Linked DNA regions of Homo sapiens. The protein of the gene in region 2 purifies or fractionates together with the protein of the main gene of each other region. This does not show direct contact. Each region holds a gene or a part of one and is shown on either strand. Other genes may lie near its edges.

The links. Proteins that work in one complex are often made in the same cells at the same time.
Region 1: the proteins of PDCL3 (region 2) and ACTR1B purify together in Homo sapiens (affinity purification with mass spectrometry; 4 studies listed by BioGRID and IntAct, with this or other methods). This does not show direct contact.
Region 3: the proteins of PDCL3 (region 2) and CCT7 purify together in Homo sapiens (co-immunoprecipitation; 5 studies listed by BioGRID and IntAct, with this or other methods). This does not show direct contact.

Annotation. Positions count from the first base shown.
Region 1 is NC_000002.12:97,655,410-97,661,046, forward strand, and holds the end of ACTR1B (beta-centractin), read right to left. Parts: intron 5,238-5,637; coding exon 5,162-5,237; intron 4,069-5,161; coding exon 3,943-4,068; intron 3,595-3,942; coding exon 3,470-3,594; intron 3,235-3,469; coding exon 3,018-3,234; intron 2,908-3,017; coding exon 2,815-2,907; intron 2,709-2,814; coding exon 2,534-2,708; intron 2,101-2,533; coding exon 2,039-2,100; intron 1,784-2,038; coding exon 1,743-1,783; intron 1,552-1,742; coding exon 1,449-1,551; 3' UTR 530-1,448; downstream 1-529. UniProt on the Homo sapiens protein: Component of a multi-subunit complex involved in microtubule based vesicle motility. It is associated with the centrosome.
Region 2 is NC_000002.12:100,565,993-100,573,023, reverse strand, and holds part of PDCL3 (phosducin-like protein 3), read right to left. Parts: intron 6,522-7,031; coding exon 6,395-6,521; intron 4,094-6,394; coding exon 4,003-4,093; intron 3,447-4,002; coding exon 3,303-3,446; intron 1,435-3,302; coding exon 1,226-1,434; intron 1-1,225. UniProt on the Homo sapiens protein: Acts as a chaperone for the angiogenic VEGF receptor KDR/VEGFR2, increasing its abundance by inhibiting its ubiquitination and degradation.
Region 3 is NC_000002.12:73,237,306-73,244,336, reverse strand, and holds part of CCT7 (T-complex protein 1 subunit eta), read right to left. Parts: intron 4,695-7,031; coding exon 4,541-4,694; intron 3,901-4,540; coding exon 3,794-3,900; intron 1,334-3,793; coding exon 1,208-1,333; intron 341-1,207; coding exon 288-340; intron 1-287. UniProt on the Homo sapiens protein: Component of the chaperonin-containing T-complex (TRiC), a molecular chaperone complex that assists the folding of actin, tubulin and other proteins upon ATP hydrolysis.

The DNA of each region.
Region 1 (5,637 bases), 2.9 Mb from region 2:
TATAACTTGTTGACCATTGGCCCCAAACACACGGCACCATCCTGGAAACACTGTAGGTTCTCAAACACTTAAGAAAGTAAAGAGCAGACATTCTCCAAACCCTAATTCCTCACTGCTCTTCTGCCTATTCCTCTAGGGCCTGGCTAAGCTCACAGCCTCTCTGCCTCTCCCTGCCTTCCCCATCCTGACTTGTCTGAAGGCGTGAGCTTGCATCATTGCTGGTGTCCACCAGCCTTAGCCCTGGCTGAATGGGGTGAGCAGAGGTGCTCAAATAGGCCTGTCCAGGGTCCGGGGGCAAAGAAGGTAGCCTGGTTCTACTTCCCCTGGTGGACTGCAGCAGGGGAGGTAACAGGCGAGGGAATTATGCTACAGGGTGAGAGCCCAGCCTCCTGAGGCTTTTTGTGCCACGTTGGCGGGCCAACCACTGAAACCTTCATGCCGCTAAGCTAGAGCCAGTGCCTTGCTGCATTCTCTCTGGTCCTTTCTCTGAAAGTCCCCAGGGATGGAAGAACAAACGATAGCACAGAGAGCCACAAGAAAACAGAGCCACACACTGGGCCTTGTCCATAATTATTACTATAATGATTTACAAAAGTTTTTTTCAGGCAACCGTGTTAAATTATTGTACATATCTGAGAGAGGGAGGTGGGGCCCTGGCCACAGCAAAAGTGACGACCTCTTTCTTGGGTGAGGTAAGAAAATGTCCCCCACCCCCTTTTAGGTCTGACTCCTTATTAAGTGGCTTCCCCTCAATAAATGATGAGCATCAACCCTTTCCCACCCAGGGTGCCGAGGGTAGAGGGAGGAGCAAGTGGATGAAGTGCTCTGAAAAGGATAGTGCAGCGGCTCTAGCCACCGTGCATCCTCTGCCCTGGCTCTGAAGGGCCTGACCCTGGGCTGCACCCCCTTGCTGGGGATGGAAGACCATTCAGTACTCAGCCCTACACCAGGGCATCTACCCAGGAAGATAGGAGGACAGAGTGTGAAAGGGGCTGTGTCACCCTGTCAGGTCACGAACAGGAGGTGGCAATGGATGCAGTGACACACCAGTGGGAGCTGCTGGCTGCCCCTTGCAGCCCACTCCCCAAACTGGCTACCCAGGCATCCAGGCATTCTGGCCCTGGAGCTCAGGGAGGCAGCCCTGAGAGTCGGAGCAGGGAACCACAGGCCTAGCTGGCCCTGCCAGGGGGATACCCACAACAGCCTGACATGGCGCTCAATTCCCACACGCCAGCTCAAGGCTCCTGTCCATGCAGCTCAATGTTACTTGTGTGTGCATGTCCTGTGTAGAGGGGAAGGCTGCAGGGGGGCACTGCTGTGCCACCCACCCAGGGGTTCAGGGCATGCAGGGGACCCTAAGCCTAGTATACGAGCCAAGACCAAAAAGGGTTAAAGGCTCTGTCTCCCCTCCCTCCCCCTCTCCCAACATGCCCCGCCCTCCTTGGGCACTAGAAAGTTTTGCGATGAATAGCACGGGAGCCATCCTCTTCATACTCCTTTTTGGACACCCACATCTTCTTAAAAGTGTCCAGCGAGGCCAGGATGGAGCCGCTGTGGGGATGGAGGGATAGTATTGCTGTGGACCTGTCAGGGAGCCAACCACCTTCCTGGGTGCTCAGAGTTGCATTTCCCTAATTTGGGAGGGAAATCCACCCACCTCCACGTGGCCTAGGCCAACAATGGGAGGAGCATCCAGGGTAAAGTGGTCTCCTCCCAGAGCCCTCCCTTGAGCCCCGCCTCACCCAATCCATGTGGAGTACAGCCGTTCCTGCGGGGCTGAGATCTAGAAGGAGGAAGTGGCCACGTTAACTGTGGATCCCCACCCAGAAGCCATCCTCCCAGCCTTGGGGTCACCTTCCCCAGGTCCTGAAGCCTGACAGCAAAGGCATAAGCTGGGGAGTGGCAGCAGCAGCCTTGGGAAGAACAGGACTAGGTGGACGTGAGCTGGTGAGCGGGTCTGGGGGCAGCATTCAACCTTCCTCCCCATGCCAAGGCTGCCAGCGCCCTAGTGCCCCAGGGGGAGTTTCTGTAACCTCACCTTGATTTTGATATCCTTTGGGGCAAGCTTCTTCACTTCACTGAGTAATCGGTCTCCGAAGCCTGTGAACACAAAGCTGGCTGAGCCTGGGGTCTGCACCCGGCCTCCTCGCTGCTAGCTCCCGCACCCAGCCTTCAGGGCCCCCAGCTACTGCTGGTCCTCTATCAGCAGCTCTTCCCAGGATGAAGGGCAAGGCTGAGAAATGATCCAGCCCCATGGCTGCCTGCGGGCCCTGCGTCCTCACAGAGGCAGCGTGAGATGAAGCCGCACATGCTCCTTGCTCGACTCTCACAATACACTTTAGAGCTTGTGTAAACTTCTCCTCTATTCACAGAGTAAACAAAATTTAATTTTAAATTTTGGTCTGTTAAAAAAAATGTTCATTGAGCACCACCAAAAAGCCAACAGAATATGGCTCTGGGTAGGGGTATACTCTCTGAGGGTCCAGCTGCCCTGGGCCTCGTCTCACCACCACCAACTCTCAAGCCACAGTACCTTTGAAAAGCGTTGAGCCACCTGAGAGCACGATGTTGGCGAACAGCGTCCGGCGCAGGTCCATGTCGGACTTGTGTATGGCGAAGGCCACCACCTCATGGAGCCCCTCACTCTCATCCCCGACAAGGTCCGGCTGGAACAGCAGCTCGGGGGCCCGGAATCGTGCAGGCCCCACCTTTAGTGTACAAGATTGAGGCAGACAGGCTTCCTGGAGAAGCGGGCTACCCCTTCCCCCAGGCTGGGCATCGGCTGCCACTCCAGTGCCAGGCCCGGCCACTTACATCAAGCGTGCTGCCGTCTGGCAACGTGTACTGCACCTTCTCCGTCTCCAGAGCCTCATCCTTCTGTGGGTTGATGGACAGGTAGCACGCTCGCTGCGGGGACAGGGACACAGCCCTCAGAAGGCTGCACCTGGGACACCTGTGCCTTGGTGCCACCCTTTCCTCACCCCAGGTCGTGTCCACACCCTCTCGCCCCTTGTCACCTCTTTGATTGTCCGGACAACCTCAAACTCAGCCGAGGTATGGAAGTCAACCCCTTCCTTGCGCAGCAGGAGTCGGAGGTAGCGGGAGACGTCGCGGCCGGCAATGTCCACCCGCATGATGGAGTGAGGCATGGCAAAGCCCTCATAGATGGGCACAGCATGAGTGACCCCGTCCCCTGAGTCTAGAACCACTCCTGTCGTGCGTCCTGTTGCGTACCTGTCACCAGGTCAGCATCCCCTCACCTCAGCCACTGAGGCACGGGGACCTCCTCACCCAGGGGAGGAACCCTGGCACATCTGCATTATCTAGTCTGAAGAGAGGACACGAGGGACTCCCTAGAGGAACAGTCATCAAGGGGCTGTTTTTCCAGGGAAGTCAGACCCTGGTCATGGCAAGCAGGACGGCACAGGGAGGACAGGACTCAGGGAGGCCAGGCTTAGGGAGCACTCACAGACTGAGCACAGCCTGCATGGAGATGAACAGGGCCGGCACGTTGAAGGTCTCAAAGAACACCTCTGCCGCCTTCTCCCGGTTCTTACTCGGGTTGAGCGGGGCCTCCGTGAGGAGCACAGGATGCTGCGAGGGACGGGACAGTTGTAGGCATCAGAGGAGGCAACTTGCAAGGCCCTAAAAGGCTCTTTCCAGAGAACCACACCCGCTGGCGCACAGGCAGCTCAGCCTCCTACCCCTCCTGAGGGCCCCATCCCTTTATCTGCTGGCAGTTACTCTTCCGGAGATCCGGCTCTCTTTGGAAGATTCTGCCTAGCAGCCACTGGGTACGTATGCGCACCCAGACACACACGGAAAGGCAGCAGGCCCTCTAGAAATGTAGAAGGGAAATGTGGGAGCCCGGCGAGGAGGGACGCAGAGGAGAGGGGCATGGCCAGGAGAATGCAGAGCATGCAGGAGGGGCAGCCGCCACACCTCCTCCGAGAAGGTCTGCAGCTGATCCTTGGAGTAGACGTACTGCCAGATGCGTTCCATGTCGTTCCAGTCTCGCACCACGCCGTGCTCCATGGGGTAGCGGATGGTCAGCAGCCCCCGGTGCTCCTGGTGGGGTGGGAAGGGAGGTGTGGCACCCGGCCCTTGCTCAGCGGCTGCTTTCCGCCCTCCTGGAAGCTGACCCTCACCTGCCCTGACCAGAACCTCACCTGCCCTGACCAGAACCACCCCTGCTCACTGGGTGTCCCAGGGTCTGTGGCGGGTCCTGAACTCAGCATGGGCTCACCTGCCCACCAGCTTCTTAGGCTCTTAGAGCCCAGCTAGCTTCAGCTGGGGGGATCAGAGAGGGTGGCAGTGTGCCCCGCAATCTGCAGGCTCTCTTCTTCCCCATTCTCACTGCCGGCACATCCCCCACATTCTCCTCACACTCTGCCAGCTCCCCTCTGGCCAGCGCCGGCACCTTGCAGCCGCCCAACACGGCCCCTCCTGGGCCACCTGTGCCCCCTGACCTACGCCTCTCCCCCCAGCCCTTTGGCCGGTCCTCACCAGTCCCCTGTTTGCACTGACATGCTGCCTCCACCTGCCCTTCGATGTCCCCCCAGCCATGCCCCTTCTCACCTAGCACCACTTAGCTCCTCTCACCACCTCGGCTCCTACGGACCCCATCTGCGAGACCCCCACCCTCTGCACCTCCAGCTCAGGCCTCCCCTTTCTGGGCCCAGAACCACGCATGCCCCACGCCCCGGCACCCGACACAATGCTCCTCAGGCGCCTAAACTGCCCTTGGCCAAGCTCAGCTTGCTGCTCTCCCCACACCCACACATGCTCTCCTGAGGGTCTGATCAGGCCATGCAGCCCCTTGGTGGGACACTCCGGCTTCACTGTGAGAGGCGGCCCCATGGCCCTCATTAGAGCAGACGTGAAGTGTGTGTGATTCTGACTCTTATATCACTTTTTGATCAGTTCTTGGTTCTGTAGCTTCCAAATAGCTTCTAAAAGACAGGACACGATGAGCTCTACCCATGCTCCCTAGAAGAGGAACTGCTGCCCCATCTCAGGGGGAGGTGCCCCTGCACAGCACTTCCCAGCTGGAGCCTGGAGGAGGTACCCGGGAGGTCACCAGCAGAGGCCCAAGAACACATGCCATGTTCCTGCAACTGAGGACCCCACCCCCAGGGAAAGGCAGGCTCCTCGGTGTTACCTCTGCTTTTGGTCCGATGAAGAGGTCCCCCTCCAGGGCTCCAGCCATCACCCGCATGTGCTTCGGCCGCCCGACACTGTTAGGACGGATAACGTCAGCAAGGTGGGCAGGGAGCATGGCAGAGCTTGTGTCCAGAAAAACCGAAATCCAACCATAGTCGCCCAGAGGGTACCTGGCCTCCAAACACCAGGATGTGGCTGGGGGGCACAGGTTGGAACTGGGGCCTATGGGGTTCGGGGCTAGAGAGGGGGCCTAGGCAGGACGAGAAGCTCAGGGTCAGAAGGCACGGTCAGCAGAGACAGCTGCATGTCTGAGCGCCAGAACCCAGCCCTCCATGGCCCAGCCCTTGCAGAGGGTCGGCTTCCTGCAGCCACAGTGACTCAGCCCACGCTCCTGACTTCGGTGGGGCAGGGCTGCCGTCACCATCCACAGACTGAGGGAGGACAACCCCAGGAAGCTGGGTCGGGGCTCCCTTG
Region 2 (7,031 bases):
AATCCCAGCTACCTGAGACGCTGAGGCAGGAGAATTGCTTGAAACCAGAAGGTGGAGGTTCCAGTGAACCAAGATCGCACCACTGCACTCCAGCCTGAGCGAAAGAGCAAAACTCCATCTCAAAAAAACAAACAATCAAACAAAAACCACATCCTTCCGAGCTAACAGGCAGAATTAAATAAAATTTTAATTTAATTTAAAAGCTGGCCAGGCGCAGTGGCTCACGCCTGTAATCCCAGCACTTTGGGAGGCTGAGGCGGGTGGATCACCTGAGGTCAGGAGTTTGAGACCAGCCTGACCACATGGAGAAACCCTGTCTCTACTAAAAATACAAAAAAATTAGCCAGGCATGTTGGCACATGCCTGTAATCCCAGCTACTAGGGAGGCTGAGGCAGGAGAATCACTTGAACCTGGGGGGCAGAGGTTGCAGTGAGCCGAGATCACGTGATTGCACTCCAGCCTGGGCAAGAAGAGTGAAACTCTGTCTCAAAAAAAATAAATAAAAGCTACTAGCCGGGCGCAGTGGCTCACGTCTGTAATCCCAGCACTTTGGGAGGCTGAAGTGGGTAGATCACTTGAGGCCAGGAGTTTGAGACCAGCCTGGCCAACATGGTGAAACCCCGTCTCCACTAAAAATACAAAAATTAGCTGGGCGTGGTGGTAGGTGCCAGTAATCCCAGATACTTGGGAGGCAGAGGCAGGAGAATCACTTGAACCTGGGAGGCAGAAGTTGCAGTGAGGCAAGATCATACCATTGCACTCCAGCCTGGGTGACAGAGCAAGACTCTGTCTCAAAAAATAAATAACTAAGTAAATAAATGTAAAAGCTACTAACATACTCAACTGAGAATGTTTCTGTAGAAAAATACAAATACATACATTAACGTCTCCCTGTGTTCATGTGAATTAAAGCAAAAGTGAATGTTGTGATTTCAAGCTACAAAAACATCCAACTGTAGAGACAAAATATATTCCACACCAATATAAAAAATGTTTATATTTAAGTCTATCACGCCTTCCTTGAACTAAGAATCAGTAGAGCCCAGTTGTAACTGTTCCTGATTACGCAACTAAGATGAGAGATTAAACGTGCTTCCGTCCTCATACACAGGCAGAAGTGAACTTGACCCACCATCGTAACAGGAGTCCAGGAAATAGACACTCTCTCCAACAGAAATGCGCCTCCCATCTCTCACTGCCCCGCCTGTCTCCCAGAGCCCTTACCATCTCTTGTCAGGTTCATGCCGCCAAACACCAGAGGACCAATAAACTGAGCCTTGATATCTCCTTCCAGGTAAACAAATATCGTGGGCAGATTCCTATCAGGATAATTGGGTATGCAGGTTGTTGAAATGGCTTTGATAAATTTGACATCAGGAAACTTCCTGGCAAGTCCACTGAGGTGCTGATTTATCAGGGCACAGAGGGGAATTCTATAAAACACACATAGAAAACAGAAGCAATTATGATCCTACATTTATACAGAACAAAGCTCAATGACCCTTCTACCCTAAGTAAAACCTTGTAACAGTTTCACAAGTAATTCTGCTGCTAGCTAAGATGAATTAACATGTTTTTTTTGACATAGGGTCTTGTTTTCACCCAGGCTAAATGGAGTGAAGTGGTGTGATCTCGGCTCACAAGCAATGCTCCCACCTCAGCCCCCCAAGTAGCACTTTGGGAGGCCAAGGTGAGTGGATCATGAGGTCAGCAGTTCAAGACCAGCCTGGCCAAGATCATGAGGTCAGGAGTTCAAGACCAGCCTGGCCAAGATGGTGAAACCCCATCTCTACTAAAAATACAAAAATTAGCTGGGTGCAGTGGCAGGCGCCTGTAATCCCAGCTACTCGGGAGGTGTGATTACAGGCACACACCACCATGCCCAGCTGATTTTTTTTTTTTTTTTTTGTAAAGACAGGGTTTCACCACGTTGCCCAGGCTGCTCTTGAACTCTTGAGCTCGAGATCCGGCCGCAATGGCTTCCCAAAGTGCTGGGATTACAGGTATTACAGGTGTAAGCCACCATGCCCAGCTGAATTAACATTTCTTAAAAACTTCCTAATATGCTGAGGGAAAGTGAAGAACACAAATCCAAAGTCCAATTTATTTGACAAAACAAGTCAGAAAAACAGCTTCAATGTAAAAGATAAAATTGCTATACATTTCTTATAAGGTTGAATGAGAAAACGCTGAAGGTTTAGAAAGTATGAAATGTCAGAAAACGTTTTCTGCTTTAAAGAAATTCCTGGCCAGGTGCAGCGGCTAACGCCTGTAATCCCAGCACTTTGGGAGGCCAAGATGAGTGGATCATGAGGTCAGGAGTTCAAGACCAGCCTGGCCAAGATGGTGAAACCCCGTCTCTACTAAAAATACAAAAATCAGCTGAGTGCGGTGGCAGGCGCCTGTAATCCCAGCTACTCAGGAGCAGAGGCAGGAGAATCGCTTGAACCTGGGAGACGGAGGTTGCAGTGAGCCGAGATCATGCCACTGCACTCCAGCCTGGTCAATGGAGTGAGACTTTGTCTCAAACAAAAAAAAAAAAAAAAAAGAAATTCCTAAATAAGCACTGGACTCTACAGTTTAAGACAAGACTGGAGAGCTGAGAAAAATCAGAGGCCCTCAGTATCACACAGTTCAGGCAATTACTACTGTAAAGGCCAACCTTGCCATCTATGAGATAAATTCATTACATAGAATGTTGAAATGTCAGAGTTCCTGTAAAGGAATAAATAACTTAGGAATTCCTTTTCAAAAACAGAAAAGCATAGTCTTCATTGCTATACTTTAACAAAGGCATTCATATTAGTCACAAATTATTAACTTGAAAGTCTTAAGATAAAAAAATTAAGTAATAAGGTTTGGGCAAACCAGCAAAAAAAACACAAAAAACTCAGTACCAGAAAAATTTTTTCTGAGACAAAGTCTCGCTCTGTCGCCCAGGCTGGAGTGCAGTGGCGCAATCTCGGCTCACTGCAAGCTCCGCCTCCCGGGTTCATGCCATTCTCCCACCTCAGCCTCCCAAGTAGCTGGGACTATAGGCGCCCGCGACCACGCCCAGCTAATTTTGTTTTTGTATTTTTAGTAGAGACGGGGTTTCATCGTGTCAGCCAGGATGGTCTTGATCTCCTGACCTCATGATCCACCTGCCTCAGCCTCCCAAAGTGCTGGGATTACAGGTGTGAGCTACTGCGCCTGGCCCAGAAAAAAAAATTTCTTAACCCTCTGATATAGGTAACGCCTGAGATCCTGAAGACATAAATTCAAATTAACATTTGATAGATGGAGTGGAAGATCAGCTCACCCTTGTTTGTAAAGGTGCAAGATGACCCACAAGCCCTCGCCAGCTTTGGTAACTTCTTGAACATAATCCTTCCCTGAGATCTCCAAAACTTCTCCGAATTTATTCTTCAGTTTAGTTGCTTTCCACTCAGCCAGTCTCCGCCGTCTGCACAAAACAAGGAGAGAAACATCTTACGTCACAAACACGTGTACACACACATCGTCTAGAAGGCAATCCTTGTAAAAGCCCAGGTTTATTTATTGGTCTTATGGCAAAAATCTAAGATCAGTTTGCTAAAATTCACAATATTATTTAATTGCAGTCGCTCCTAGATGTTTCAGCTGAAAATTAATTTTTTGAAGGACACACATTTCATTTTATTTTTTGAGACAGAGTTTGGCTCTGTCACACAGGCTGGAGTGCAGTGGCACAGTCTCAGCTCACTGCAACCTCCACTTCCAGGGCTCCTGAGTAGCTGGAACTATAGCCGTTCACCACCACACCCAGCTAGTTTTTGTATTATTTATAGAGACGGGGTTTCACAGGCTGGTCTCAAACTTCTGAGCTCAAGCGATCTGCCTGCCTCAGCCTCCCAAAGTGTTGGGACTACAGGTATGAGTCACCATGCTCAGCCCACACATTTTATTGCCACGCCAAAAAAAAAACCAAAACAAAACAAACAACAACAAAAAAACAAACAGCCCCTCTGGGTGGCGCTTACCTGTACATTTCAATAGCACGTTCATCCTCCTCATTAAACTCGTCTTCATGATCCTCCAGCTCTTCCAAAGTCATATCTTCATATGTTTTCACTGAATTTGGTTACATTGGCAAAAAGCAAAAATTTAAAAAGATGAACGAACATGTATTTTTCTTTTTTCCCCTCTCTTTTCTCCTAAAGATATGCACACAACACCAGATCCTTAGCCTACCTAAACAAAAATTACTTAAGGCACCACACTACATTAGAAGCTGAGAGGCCAGGCATGGTGGCTCACACCTGTAATCCCAATTTATTGACTGACAACATTTTACCCAAGCCCTCAGATCCTCCTCCCCTCTCTTCTCCTATTCCGCCTCACCCTGCCCCGCTTATTTTCCTTTTTTTGGAGACAGAGTTTCACTCTTGTCATCCAGGCTGGAGTGCAATGGTGCGATCTTGACTCACTGAGAACCTCCGCCTCCCAGATTCAAGCAATTCTCCTGCCTCAGCCTCCTGAGTAGCTGGGATTACAGGCGTGTGCCACCACACCCAGCTAATTTTTGTATCATTAATAGAGACAGGGTTTCACCATGTTGGCCAAGCTGGTCTTGAACCTTCTGACCTCAAGTGATCTGCCCATCTCAAAGTGCTGGGATTACAGGAGTGAGCCAGCCGCCCTACTGTTGAACCCTTTGCTGATTAAAATTCCCCAGGCTCAAACCTTTGACTACTTTTCTTCTTTATCCACACCCACTCCCTCGGTGATTGCATCTAATCTCATGGCTTTCAGTGCTATCAATATGCTGACAACTCCCAAAGTATAGGCCTCCAGCCCAGACTTCTCTAATGTAGAGAAAAACATACCCAAGGGCCCTCTTAATGTGGCTATTTGTCTAATAGGGATCTCCAAGTTAATGCATCCCTTGGCTGGGTGCAGTGGCTCACGCCTATAATCCCAGCTCTTTGGGAGGCTGAGGTGGGCGGATCACTAGAGGTCAGGAGTTTGAGACCAGCCTGGCCAACATGGTGAAACCTCATCGCTACAAAAAATTACCTAGGCGTGGTGGCACATGTCTGTAATCCCAGCTACTCGGGAGGCTGACGCAGGAGAATCGCTTGAACCTGGGAGGCGGAGGTTGCAGTGAGCCAAGATTGCGCCACTGCAGTCCAGCCTGGGTAAGAGAGCGAGACTCCATCTCAAAAAAAAAACAAAAAAGAGAAAATGTCACTCTTCTGTTTAAACATCCAAAAGCTTCCTGCCTCATTAGGTGTAAAGGCCAAGGTCCTTACTAGAAGCTTCTGGGTCTGCTGAGGCTGCTCTGAACTCTCTCCCCCAGCGCCTCCAGCTCCTCAGGGATTCCCAGCCATGCCAGGGCCCATATTTCACTCGCTCACGTCACCCCCTTCAGGAATACCCAGATGTCTTCTTCACCTCCTTCAGGTCTCAACAACTCCCTCAGGTCTATTCAAATGTGTTCTTCAGCTCCTTCAGGTCTTTACCCAAATGCCAGCTTCACCTCCTTCAGGTCCATGCAAATGTCATCTCAGTGAGGCCCTCTCTGAGCCTGCTTCTCCTCCAACCCTTTCTAGTCCCTTTTACTGCCTTATTTTCTTTATTGTTTATTGTCTGTCTCCCCCACTTGAATGTTGGTTCTCTGAGGGCAGAGAATTGTCTCTGGCTTATGCATAGCTAAATCCCCAACCCCAGAAAAGCACCTGACAATGATAATCATGCAGTAAGCACTCGCTGGATACTTTCTAATAAATCCTTCTCTAAATTAGCTCTAATGTGTCAACAGAGGACAAAAGTACTAGTCCCTGGGACCAGTGCTTCTCAAACTATGACACGCATCAGAATCCTTTAAGGCACTTGTTTAAAATGCAGATTCCTGGGCCTCATTCCAGAGACTGCTTCAGTAAACACTAGGTGGGTGGGGTTACCAGCACTCCAAGGGACTCCAATTCAGACAGTACAACTGCCTTTGAGAAAACCCCCCTCAGACTCCCACACATTGCAAACATCTTATGCCTCCCCAAATGAAGCAATTTTTAGTTAATATCCTCAATGAAACCACAGAAAATAAAGTATATGCTCAGGAAAATACAAGTACTAAAAACCTTGAACAAATTTCCATGACATTATCAAAGGGAATCACAGACCAGAAAGCAGAAAGAAGTATTTTCTTCAGTGCTCATGTGACATGGACAAGGACTTGTGGGACATATCTGAAGTCCCCTAAGTCTATGGCTCAGGAAGGTGAAGGTGAGAGACGCCCTGTGTTTTGTCTGAGGTCCCACAGACACAGAGTGTCCATGCTGGCACTCCAACCTGTCTCCTGGCAGGGCAGTCAGAGGCTTAGGGAGCCATCTCCTAACCCAGACAGGTGCAGAGGAAAGCGAGTGAACTCACCCACTGACTGCTGGAGGATGCGCTGCTCCTCTTCTGCCTCCTCTTCCAATTCTTTCAGACTTTCCTTGGGGGGTAAGATACCCTTTTTGCGTAAGATGTCATTCCATTCAGTGTCTGCGTTGGGGTCCTAGAAGAGCGGGACCAAGGTTACCATGAGTGCTAAGTCTAGTATGTAGGGTGCCACGTTGGGCAAGGGGCCAAATGGGAAAAGTGACAGGAAGGGAGGAATGCACACCAGTCTGTGAACTATTTCTGAGAAAGTGTCAAAAGATCCATAGCCCCCGTTTTGTTTTTCCTGTCTACCCCTCCCTGAATGGAGGAGCTATTCTTGGGGTAAAAATTAGGATAGGGAGTGCAGATCAGTATCAATACGGATACCAAGGCTCTGACTTGGCATGTGTTCAATATTTTTAATAATGACTGAGAGTGCCGGGCACAGTGGCTCACGCCTGTAATCCCAGCACTTTGGGAGGCTGAGGCAGGCGGATCACGAGGTCAGGAGATAGAGACCATCCTGACTAACACGGTGAAACCCCGTCTCTACTGAAAATACAAAAAATTAGCCGAGCGTGGTGGCGGGCACCTGTAGTCCCAGCTACTTGGGAGGCTGAGGCAGGAGAATGGCATAAACCCGGGA
Region 3 (7,031 bases), about 27 Mb from region 2:
CAGCTTCTTTTGTGCTCTGTGGGCTGGGACACAGCCAAGGGTCTGGCAGGAGCCAAACAGCCCCAGGCACATAGAGGGATTGCAGCATGCTTCTGCATCCAATTTGGCCACAGGAAGTCAGTCAAGGTTCTGACAAAGGCCTGACACGGTGACTCACACCTGTAATCCCAGCACTTTGGGAGTCGCAGGTGGGAGATCACTTGAGCCAGTAGTTCAAGACTAGCCTGGGCAATACAGCAAGGCTCCGTCTCTTTAAAAAAAAAAAAAAAAACCCACTACAGACTTACACTTTATCTGCCTTCTTCACGGTCACAGCAATCTCTTTGATCTTGTTAACTGCCTGCCAAGAACAGAAGTTGAATGAGTCTCTCATGCTAAAGACAAACTGCTGAAGTGGACCTCAATCTCTCAATAGTCCTGAGTCTGTTCACTCCCAAATCCTAAGCATTTCTACTCTACAGCTGAAAAAACACTTCTAGGTCTTGTAACTGCTCAGAAAAATGTAAAACTCTATAGTTCAGAAAATTCCAAGTCAGAAATGCAGAGTGGGTATACAGTTCTGAAGAATCAGGGTGCTTCCAAGATTTTGCTCTGGGTCTGCAGGTAACACGCTACAACGAATGAGTGGAAACAGCTGTGACACGAGATTAAGCCAAACCTCCTGGTTTACTAAAAACACCTACGACAACTTCTAGCACTTTATATATTAGTTATATATAAAATATGCATACAAATATATAAACTTTTTATTTTTTTCCAAAGTACTCCTCATATATTATTTCATTTTAATGTCACCACTCAAATTAGAGATAGCAAAGAAAGTAAGGCCTAGAAAGATTAAATGACTTGCCCCAGATCACAAATGAAGGTTAGAGGGCAAATAATAGCTAGGTCTCAATATACACCATGAGGTGCTTGAGTATAGCATGTAGTAGTAGTATGCCATGAGTCTCTTAGTCCTTACTAAAAGACTATGTCTACATCATAGTCTACCAGGCTGACTCTAACCTGAGGCTTAAAGAGATTAAGTAATACACCTCATCAAATGGCTACAGATTAGTAGAACTGAGATTACTAAGGAGATGTCAGAAAATGCCCAAAGTACCCTGTTCCCCAGTCCCTCCACACTCCTGAAAAGAAATTCCCCTTCCTAAGAGAAATGTGAAGGTGTCCAGGCCCAAGAGAAGGTTAATCAGTACTGCCATACCAGCTGGGTGGCTGTGCGGAAAGCTCGAATGATGATCTGGGGGTGTAAACCTTCCTCCACATAGGGTTTCACCTGCTTCAGAAACTCTGCAGCCAGCAAGGTCACTGAGGTGGTGCCATCACCCACCTGGAAGATGATGACAGGAAATACACGTTTTCTGATGTTCAGGGAATAAAGCCCTGAAACTCCATTTTTAGGCACGCTACCCATTTAAACTGAATATTATTTAAATGGATGTCAAGCTTTTTTCTGGAAGCACAGGTTTTTGCAATAAGTAGAAAGAAGCTAATGGTAGTTACATATCCATCATGTCAAACAGTCCTGGGCTACCAAATTAATTCCCCAGACAGCCCCATTCTCTAAAGAGGGCTGATGTGGACAATCAAATGTCCTCAGGGTAAAAAATTACACACATGAACTGAGAACTTATGTTACGTACAAGGCATTGTGATGAATAAAACAGTCCTTGTCATGCTTATTGTAATACAATACTTAAAATAATCATGGTACCAAGAAGCAAGAGACAAACATTGTTTAAGAAGCAAAAGGTGGCTGGGCACGGTGGCTCACACCTGTAATCTCAGCACTTTGGGAGGCTGAGGCAGGTGGATCACCTGAGGTCAGGAGTTCAAGACCAGCCTGGACAACACGGTGAAACCCTGTCTCTACTAAAAATACAAAAATTAGCTGGGCGTGATGGCGGGCGCCTGTAATCCCAGCTACTCAGGAGGCTGAGGCAGGAGAATTGCTTGAACCTGGGAGGCAGAGGTTGCAGTGAGCCAAGATCGCACCACAGCACTCCAGCCTGGGCGACAGAGTGAGACTCCGTCTCAAGAAGCAAAAGGTACTGCAGGAGTTCCTTTCTTTTTTAATAGAGAAAGGGTCTCCCTATGTTGTCTAGACTGGTTTTGAACTCCTGGCCTCAAGCAATCCTCCCACCTCGGCCTCCCAAAGTGCTAGAATTACAGGCATGAGCCACTGCATCTGGCCAGGAGTTAAAAAAAAAAAAAGGTAACTTTCAGTCAAATCACACTAAAACAAACGTCCTAGGACCAGCCAAAGTTCTTTATATTTCAAAAACTATGAGGAGGCCAGGCACGGTGGCTCATGCCTGTAATCCCAGCACTTGGGGAGGCCGAGGCGGGCTGATCACCTGAGGTCAGGAGTTCGAGACCAGCCTGGCCAACATGGTGAAACCCCGTCTCTACCAAAAATACAAAAATTACCCGGGCGTGGTGGTGGGTGCCTGCAATCTCAGCTACTCGGGAGGCTGAGGCAAGAGAATTGCTTGATCCCAGGAGGCGGAGGTTGCAGTGAGCCAAGATCACACCATTGCACTCCAGCCTGGGCAACAAGAATGAAACCCCCTCTCAAAAGAAAAAAAAAAAAAACTACTGGGAATAAGCAGATTACTAGTCTGCTAATCTTTTTTAGATGGTGCTTTTCTGTGATGGGATCTAAATCCTATTTAATGAGGGTGAAAAAGAAAAAGAGCTTTCTAAGAAAATTGGATAAACTCTAAACTGGAAGAAATTTATTTCGGTAGAGATGGGGTCGTGCTGTATTGCCCAGGCTGATCTCAAACTCCTGGACTGAAGGGATCCTCCCACCTTGGCCTCCTAAAGTAATGAGACACAAGCATGAGCCACCATGCTCAGCCCAGAAATTTATTTTTAACTTCATGTATGTTCACTGTGTAAGGTAAGAAATTCTCAAGGGGCAAAAAAAAAAAGGTTACTATAGAGAAGGTTTAAGTGGGCAGATTTCTGGACCAAAAGGCATTATTCCCTCGTTGAAGACAAAAACAAATCAAATCCAGACTCTTCTCTCTTTAATTTTATATATGCTATACCTGTTTTATAGGCTTGGCTCCTAATAAACCTTTTAACGTAACTTCAAGACATACCTGTAGTATACATATTTTGCAGTACTCTAAAATACAAAACCTATCTGTCAACACATTTATTAATACTCCAGTGTTAGAATTTATTTTTAAAAGATAGACTGGTTAATGCCATGAATTATACACTTAAACATGGTATTAAGAATAAATATTATGTCTGTTTTATCATCAGTTTAAAAAAAAAAAAAAAAAAGCCTGGTGTAGTGGGGAATGCCAGTAGTTCCAACGACTAAGGAAGCTGAGGTGAGAGAAGGCTTGAGCCCCGGAGTTCAAGGCCAACCTGGGAAACATAGTAAGACCCTATCTCTTTAAAAAAAAAAAAAAAAGAAAGAAAGGCAGATTGGAAGTCTTAGTTTACAGCCCCATTTTGTAAGAGATGAGAAGTCAAATTATTTAACCTAGCAACTCACACAAATGACAGCACACAACCTGTTAAGATCTCAGGCAGTAGACTTATATCTAAAGACTGTTGTCATTCACCAATGTATTAATGGATATGAAAAGCTACATGTAACGAAATAGTATGAATTTTAAAAGGCTGTTAATTCTAAATACTTTTATAAGCATGTATTACTTGTACAATTATAATTATATAAAATCTTAAAAAAATTTAATAGAGGAGAACTAAGGAGCAAGCAAGCATGTGTTTCAACCTCCATTTAAACACACAACTATTTTCCTACCTCAGCATCTTGGGATTTGGCAATGTCTACCAAAGTCTTTGCTGCAGGATGGACAACATCAAGAAGTTTCAGAATTGTGGCCCCATCATTAGAAATTGTTGCTTTGCCTTAAAAGAAACAAACAAAAATCTAAAGCCCCTTTCTTAAATGCTGTCTTCAAGTGGGACCTAGAACCCATCTACACTTTACTGGGATGGGGCAGAGGGGATCACGGCAGGGCTGAAGGGAAAGGATACCTATCTGATCTTTCTATACAGAATTAGCTCTGTACACAAAGGGTCTAAAATCACAAGCTTTTGCAGACCACAGACTCCCAATTTTCCTTGAAGAGCAATTAATACAGGTCAACTGGATACAGAAAAGATTTTTTAAATAAAAGTAACCACTTAGATATTCTTACCACAGTTGATACCCTCACACATCAATTAATATACCAAGATATAAACAGGAATTTTCTCATCTTGATAACAATGGAAGTGAACACAGGAAACTCCAGATGGTTCTATTTCATGTTTCTAGGCCACGTCTCCCTATGAGGCAACAGGCTCCTGAGCCTAGGTTCTCTCATATAGTCCCACACGGGCTCAGCAGTCAGGACAATATAAGAATTGGAACTGCTTCAGAGTGAGTCATCTTTCAACGATCTTAAAAGCAGTGGGATTTCTGATACCAACCTATGCTAGTCCCAAACACCCCCTCAGGAGCCTCCTTTCCTGCACACAGGCCTGAGGAACTCTGTAGACTTACCTCTGCCATCTACAATAAGCTTGTCCATGCCACGGGGACCCAGGGTAGTTCTTACAGCCTCAGCAATCACCTGGCAGGCACTGATGTTACTCACAAGCTGGGGGATGCCTTGGGAGCTATCAGTCCCCTCTTTCAATAGGATAACTGGTGTGGGCTAGAAAAGAAAGAAATTAACTGCTTTTAATAATCATCTATTATAATGAGACTGGCAGGGGAAAGGGGAAAATGCTCCCATCTCTCCCTTAACAGAATTATCTAGAGGTCTTCTTAAACCACATTCCCCCAACTGTCTACCACATCCATTCCCCAACCAGCCTCTACCTCCAGAGACACTATCAAATTTAGCCTACCCTGCAGGTATGCTAGACAGGAAAATGGTTTGAGAAGCACTGACCTAATCTAAAAGAAAAAATCATGAGTTCTCCAGTACCCAGCTGAATGACCATGGCCTTTTCAACTTCTGACCTTACTCCCTGTGCTGAGGAATTGGGTCACAACACAGGAGGAAGAGGCAGACCCTGCTAAGTGTTCATTCCGCAGCAAAACATCCACTTGTCTGTGTTACAGCTCAATCTTAGAGAAGCAGATGGGACACTGATGCAAAATGCAAGATGCCAAGAGCTTGAGGTGTTGTCCTAGAGATGCCTAGGCAGTCAGCTTTATGTAACAGTGATGTTCAGCTGCAGTGTAGGAAAACAGGCAGAGAAACAAACAGCACCTTTGCCCTGTTTTGAAAAATGATGGCAAATCTAATTCATACAGCAATGTTTCCATCTCTCATGCTGGCTGAATAAAGCTTCTGTGTGACTAATTTCCAATCAGATACCCCAAAGAAGTTTTCCTCTTTCTATATTGCATTGGTCTCCAGAACATTCCCTATCCCCGTAAGGGCTTCATTTGCAGACCTGCTTTAGAAACTGAGAAACAGGGATACTTGCTTGTTTTAAAGGGCCCGCTCAGATATCTTTGCTCTAGTGACCACCATTATTAGCAGAGAGAGCAATTTCTCAGCTTAGCAAACCAGACTACTTTCTCTCCACATTCAAATCTGAGCCTTCAGAGATAAGCCCACGAACTAGATCCAGTCTTCTCAAGTGTTTCTGGCTAATTTTGTGTGTGACACAGAATGTAGTAAGGATAAATACTATTTCAAAACTTTTATTGTGTTAAATTTGTTACTAGGCTATGATTAAAAATGTATTTCTTACTGTGGAATGCAATAAAAAGTTTGAAAGCCATCACCTAGTCCTTAGAGGTACGTGGATGTCTGAGCAAGGAAGGCACAGGAAAGCACAGAGCTTTCCCAACCTAACAATGAGGAGTGAGGAATTCCTGCCAAAGACAGAGTCTTGCCACTCATGAGGCTGATTCCTTATTAACTGGTCAATTCCTTAAAAAGTTCAACTCTTTTGGCCAGCGCAGCTGGAGGGTAGTAAGCAAGAGGAAGACTGGAATAAAGCTGAAGAGGCAGGCAGGAACCAGATCACATACACACTCGTAGACACACTATGGTGAGGAGTTCAGATTTCATTCCTAAAAAGGAAAGCCCTGGGAAGCTTTCAGCAGAGGAATGGCATACTGTGATTTACATAAAAAACAAAAACCACTGTAGAAAAAAGAGGATCACTTGAGCTCATGGAGTTCAAGACCAGCCTGGGGAACATGGCAAGACCCTGTCTCTACAAAAAGAAAACGAAAAATACCCAATAAACTCTACGGAATAAGAGAGTGGGAGTAATTTAATATATTATTCATTTTTTAATATATATTTCTAAGAGACAGGGTCTTGCTCCACCACCCATGCTGGAGTGCAGTGGTGAGATCATAGCTTACTATAAGCTCAAGCCTCCTGAGTAGCTGGACCGCAATGCATGAGGTACCACACCTGGCTAATTTTTTAAATTTGTATTTAAAAAATGTTGCCCAGGCTGGTCTCCAACTCCTGGCCTCTAACAACCCTCCTGCCTCAGCCTTCTGAAGTGCTAGGATTACAGGCATGAGGCACCATGCCAGGCCCTCATTAAATTTTTTTAAATGCTTGTCAAATAATCATACATTACTCCTTTTATTTTTTATTTTAAAAAGAATGCTTGTCATGTAAACCCCTACATTTGGGATCAGGCGTCAACTGAAGGGAAAATTCCTTCCTTTTGCTGGAGTGTCCCAGGTCTGGTGGCAAGAAATGGCTTCTCTATACTCCCAGCATTCTTTCTGGCTCTTCAGCTGGCCCAGTCCCTGGCACCTTCTGTAAGGGAAAGATGTGTGTCCTGAAAGGCCCTACCATCTCCCAGTCTTGCTAAATCATTCCTTATGGCAGCCCCAAGTCTTCTCTGGTCCACCCCTGCCACGGATGGAGTCTTACACTTTAAATCAAAAACTAACATGAGTCTCAATCACTTCCTATCACCTTCAACAGGTTCTTTCACCTCAACAGGTTAACTTACCCAATGCTTGTGTATACTTTTTCTCACCTCAACCTGCAAAGTGTACC